Regions from separate parts of the Homo sapiens genome. Here region 1 is linked to region 2. Evidence: fine-mapped expression QTL. A gene starts in region 2. The other region holds a variant in brackets. All regions are shown on one strand. Distances are between the middles of the regions. Region 1 has its middle 3.5 kb from the start of NDUFAF1. Region 2 holds the start of NUSAP1 (nucleolar and spindle associated protein 1).

What was found. PIP is the estimated chance that this variant, and not a neighbour inherited with it, causes the effect. A credible set is the group of variants that fine-mapping cannot tell apart.
Region 1: its variant is the best candidate, but not a certain one, in a credible set for the expression of NUSAP1 in whole blood (TOPMed, PIP 0.50).

The regions. Positions count from the first base shown.
Region 1 is chr15:41,404,545-41,407,454 of GRCh38, forward strand. No RefSeq gene overlaps it. Among named protein-coding and RNA genes, the nearest start is that of NDUFAF1, 3.5 kb to the left of the region's middle. The variant C/T (reference allele first, on the strand shown) is at 1,554.
Region 2 is chr15:41,331,380-41,334,289 of GRCh38, forward strand. It overlaps NUSAP1 (nucleolar and spindle associated protein 1), which reads left to right and starts at 1,502. Exons shown (of 11, transcript NM_016359.5): 1 at 1,502-1,671. The coding sequence starts at 1,579. It overlaps OIP5 (Opa interacting protein 5), which reads right to left and starts at 1,212. Exons shown (of 5, transcript NM_007280.2): 1 at 861-1,212; 2 at 536-602. The coding sequence starts at 1,182. RefSeq lists an enhancer at 966-1,225.

The DNA.
Region 1 (2,910 bases), 73 kb after region 2:
TGTTGCATTCTCTTGCTGTTTTTGATCTTTGATCTTTTCACACCTTCTTTCCAAGCCCACTGACACGTTTCTTGTTTTTTTGGTTTTTAAAATATAGTAGCCATCCTAATGAGTGTGAAGTGGTATCTCATTTTGGTTTTGATTTGCATGTCTCTAATCATTAGTTGTTTGCTGCTTTTTTTTTTTTGAACCACAGTCTTCCTCACCCAGGCTGGAGTGCAGTGGCGTGATCTCGGCTCACTGCAACCCCCGCCTCCCGGGTTCAAGTGATTCTCCTGCCTCAGCCTCCTGAGTAGCTGGGATTAGAGGTGCATGCCACCACACCCAGCTGATTATTGTATTTTTAGCAGAGTCAGGGTTTCGTCATGTTGGCCAGGCTGGTCTCCAACTCCTGACCTCAGTTGATCCACCCACCTCGGCCATCCAAGGTGCTGGGATTACAGGCGTGAGCCACTGTGCCAGGCTGTTTGCTTAAGTATAGGAAGCCCCATATGTATTTATTACCAGTGGAGAAAGGAAGGCTGGAAGAAAGAAAAAAATATTCAAATAGAAAGGAAGGACATGACAATGCCAGGCAGAAGAAAAGGTAGAGTCACTAGGGGAAGGAAATATAGGAAATAAAGGAAGGAAATAAAGGCAAAGAGCTGAGGGGAAATGATTATGTAGGTTAACCCAACCATGTCTGTAGCACCTTCTTCCTTGGCCTCCCAGACAGTGGTAGTGGGCTCCACCAAATCTTAACTATACCTTTGTTCACAACAAAACTGAAACCCAGCCAGGCAGGGTAGCTCACACCTGTAATGCCAGCACTTTGGGAGGCCTAGTCGGGTGAATCACCTGAGATCAGGAGTTCGAGACCAGCCTGGCCAACATGGTAAAACCCTGTCTCTACTAAAAATACAAAAATTAGCCAGGGGTGGTGGCGAGCACCCGTAATCCCAGCTACTCGGGAGGCTGAGGCAGGAGAATGGCTTGAACCTGGGAGGCAGAGGTTGCAGTAAGCTGAGATCTTGCCATTGCACTCCAGCCTGGGCGACAAGAGTGAAACTCTGCCTCAAAAAAGAAAACAACAACAACAACAACAACTGAAACCCATCCAAATTAGACATGGAGACAACAGGGGACCATCTATCTATTTGTGGACATAAGGCTGACAAATGCCATAAATGATAATATGACAAAGGGAACAAAGTGAGGGAAACTAAGAGCAGGCAACTACAAAGAGAAGCCCCTGCCTAAAAGGAAATGAACAGTAAGAGCATCATTCAGAAGCCTGGGACCAGAGGACATTGAAGCTGTTCTGAATCCGAATATGAATGGGTGAAGCCCTGTAGTCCCCTATATTGCAGGCAGTGACAAAAGAGGCAGAAGTGTTGTTCAGCCCTGGCCAACCTTAGAAGGTAGCAGGATCATTTTTTGTTTGTGTGTTTGCTTGTTTTGAGATGGAGTTTTCCTCGTGTTGTCTAGGCTGGAGTGCAATGGCGCAATCTCAGTTCACTGCAACCTCCACCTCTCGGGTTCAAGCGAATCTCCTGTCTGAGCCTCCCGAGTAG[C/T]TGGGATTATAGGTGCATGCCACCATGCCTGCCTAATTTTTGTATTTTTAGTAGAGACGAGGTTTCATAATATTGGTCAGGCTAGTCTGCAACTCCTGACCTCAGGTGATCCACCCGCCTCAGCCTCCCAAAGTGCTGGGATCACAAGCGTGAGCCACCGCGCCCGGCCTGTTTTTGTTGTTTGGAGACGGAGTCTTGCTCTGTCACCCAGGCCAAGGTGCAGCAGCCCAATCTTGGCTCACTGCAACCTCTGCCTCCCAGGTTCAAGCGATTCTCCTGCCTCAGCCTCCTGAGTAGCTGGGACTACAGGGGTGCGCCACCACGCCCAGCTAAGTTTTGTTGTTTTAGTAGAGACAGGGTTTCGCCATGTTGGCCAGGCTGGTCTCCAACACCTGACTTCAAGTGATCCACCCACCTTGGCCTCCCAAAGTGCTGGTATTACAGGCATGAGTCACTGCGCCTGGCCAGGAGGGTATTTTTTTGTTTGTTTGTTTGAGACCGAATCTCACTCTGATGCCCAAGCTGGAGTGCAGTGGCGTGATCTCAGCTCACTGCAACCTCCACCTCCCGGGTTCAAGCGATTCTCCTGTCTTGCCCTCCTAAGTAGCTGAGACTACAGGTGCATGCCACCACACCCAGCTGATTTTTTTTTTTTGGTAGAGACAGGGTTTCACCATGTTAGCCAGGATGGTCTCGATCTCCTGTCCTCGTGATCCACCCGCCCCGGCCTCCCAAAGTGCTGGGATTACAGGCGTGAGCCACCGTGCCCAGCCAGGAGAGCTTTTTCTTTAATTTTTTTTTAAGCTGCTGAGTTTGTGTTAAGCAGGATCCTAATGTCATTTCCAATCAGTATTAAATCAAATAATATATGTAAAATATTTGCATAATTATTGGAATTATTTGGTAAATGTACAAAAAAGCTAGCTATTATTGCTGAACTATAGGACAGTGTTCAACAGGTACACAGTCCAATAGAGGGCATGTCATCAAACAAATAACTGCAGCACAGTTAGAAACTATAGCAGAGGGAGGTATTAGGTACAAGACTGGCCCAAAGAAGGGTGTAATGAGTGCTTCTAGGCTAGACATTGAGTTTAACACTTCTCAGGCATTTTCTCTTTTCATTGTCAGAACAATTCTGTGAAGTAGGTACTCATATTACACCTATTTCCCAGGTAAGAAAACAGATGTTAAGTAACATGCTAGTCACATGCTTATCACAGCTGTTGAAGTAGCAGAGCTGGGATTCAAACCACGTCTGTCTGCTAAATCCAGGATACATGCTCATTATTCACTACATTGTATCATGTCTGCTCATCCAAGTTAGGGAGTAGTTCCTAGAGGAAGAACATGAACT
Region 2 (2,910 bases):
AGTTCTAATATCAAGCGTGGGCAACATACTAAGGCCTCTACAAAAAATTTAAAAATTAGCCGGGAGTGGTGCTGTGTGCCTGTAGTCCCAGCTACTCCGGAGGGTGAGGTTGGGAGGATAGCTTGAGCCAGGAAGGTAGGGGCTGTAGTGAGCTATGAGCGCACCAGTGCACTCCAGCCTGGGCGAGAGCAAGACCCTGTATCAAAAAGTTCTAATATCTAAAAGGATTGTAGTTTATAGTATGTTATTCTCACTGTAAACCAAAAGGTTATTTTTTTCTTTTGTCCACTACTAGATACATCTTTCTTAGCCTCACTTCACTTGTACAAGCCACCTGGGAGAAGTGGCCCTCAGGAAGATCCTAAAACCAATACACAAATACAACTTTTTCATTTCATTAATACATCAAGTTCATATAAGAGTCAAACAGGTAAAAGCAGCATCCCAAACTGTTTTCTCCTCGTACATGTCAGTTCCACGATCCTCAGTCTCATAAAGTCAGGGACTAGAGACCAATGTAATTATCAATACGTACCTGCCTTTGAGTGAACCTTCAATGCCAACTAGGAAGGGCGCTTCCAAAACGACGTTATTTGTAACTCCTAGGAAGACAAACACGGGTCAGAACCCATACTCTGCGGGCCTTGAAATGGAAAATCTCTCCTCTAGACAGACTCATCCTGGCCGTAAATATCAGGAGACTCCCCGATTCCCTGCCCCATCCCCAGGCCAAGGAGTTATTTGCTTCCAACTTTTCATCCCGTTTTCTTCCCCAGGTGGTTCTCCGCCACCCGGTGGAGAAAGCGGGAACACCCTCTCGGGCTAGCCTCTGCCTTTCCCGAACGCTTCACTGCACTCACTGGAGAAGACCACGGCCCCGAGGGACCGCGACAGGTCCCAGGCGAGGTGCACCGAGTCGGCGAGCACTGCGTGACACTGTGCGCACTGGAACACAGCGCACCTCTCAGGCTGCAGCCAAGACGGCAGCTGCGGGCCGGCGGCTGGCTCCTCAGCCCCCAGCCCTGCGGGGCCGAGCGGCGAGGACCCCTTCACCACCTGCGTATCCCACTCCATGGAGGTCGTAAAAGAAGCTTGGTCAATCGCCCTCTCAGTGCCACCACAAAAGTCCCCCCGGGGCGGCGTTGCACAACGTGAGCGATGCCGCAGCGGCTGAGCCGCCATCTTCCCGCAGCCGGCGCCTTCCTTTCGAATACACGCCAGGCCCCGCCCCAAGCACAGCTCCTGCGTCCTCATTGGACATCATGGGCAATCCAAGCACTGGAGTCCGAGTCCGCGCACTCGTTACCTGAACAGGCGTTACAGGCCCTTTGGCGCCTGCGTATTCGTGAAGTGTGAAAAAAGCGCGCCTCTGTTGGGACGGGAAATCAGCCTTTCTATTGGTCAGGGTTAGAAACCCCGCCTTTGAGGCATTTTCAACCAATGGAAGCGCGGCATTCTTCATTTAAACTGTCTATAAATTTCTGCCTAGTCAAAGTTAAGAGTGGCGCCAGGGATTTGAACCGCGCTGACGAAGTTTGGTGATCCATCTTCCGAGTATCGCCGGGATTTCGAATCGCGATGATCATCCCCTCTCTAGAGGAGCTGGACTCCCTCAAGTACAGTGACCTGCAGAACTTAGCCAAGAGTCTGGGTCTCCGGGCCAACCTGAGGGTACGGCGCTGGCGGTGCGGGTCCCTGGGCGGGCGCGGCGGGAATAGCGGCCTCGGGGAGATGCGGTGCGAAGGGACCGAGAGGGAAGCCCGGGACTGAGGCAGCTCTCCCTGCCCCTCGGGCAGTAGATGTGGTTCACGGTAGTCCCAGTTAGAACTCTGATAAACGGAAGAGGAACTGTAGTTTTCACCTCATTTTGAAGCTGGCTTGTCTGGGTGCTCACATGATAAGCTCTATTCCGAGGGATGGTTTATTGTTTTTTGTTTTGTTTTGTTTTGAAATTACTGTATACCTCTCAGGGCGTCGATTACGAAACTCAGGCCCAGAAAGCACAAGGGGTGTCGTTAATCGTTAGACAATTAAGTAAATAATTGGCTCAGCTTCTGGAAAACCCCAAACAGACTCCAGTGATTTGTAATATTGCCGATAATCTCTTGATACTTTATTGATGGACCTGTCAGAAAAAAAAAATCGACTTTTAGGGGAGCACCTCCTTGGGTAAATTTTTATTGATGACTGTTGGGTTGATGGTCTCTATCAAAACCAGTAAGGTCTTTGACTCCGAGGCTACAAGATGTTTGGAGAGTTGGCCCGGCGCTGTGGCTCACGCCTGTAATCCCAGCACTTTGGGAGGTCGAGGCAGGCGGATCACCTGAGGTCAGGAGTTCGAGACCAGCCTGGCCCTTAAAAAATTAGCCGGGCGTGGTGGCACACGCCTGTGATCCAAGCTTTTTGCCTGTGATCCCAGCTACTTGGGAGGCTGAGGCAGAAGAATCGCTTGAACCTGGGAAGCCGAGGTGGCAGTGAGCCAAGATCGCACCACTGCACTCCAACTTCGGTGACAGAGAGAGACTCAGTCTCAAACAAAACAAAAACAAACAAAAAACCCAAGATGTTAGAAGAAGATTTGGGGATTTAATGTAGGATAGCGGTTTTATATATTTTGTTAATAGTTGAGACTTCCCACATAATACTGCTATATACTCTGGAGGTTTCTCCTGCAGGCTGTGATACTGACAGTGAGTAAATGCTTAAATCAATCGTCACAATTTTTTTTTTATTTGTTTGTTTGTTTGTTTTTTCTTTGAGACGGAGTCTTGCTCTGTCGCCCAGGCTGGAGTGCAGTGGCGCCATCTCGGCTCACCGCAACCTCCGCCTCCTGGGTTCAAGCGATTCTCCTGCCTCAGCCTCCTGAGTAGCTGGGATTACAGGCGCGTGTCACCACGCCTGGCTAATTTT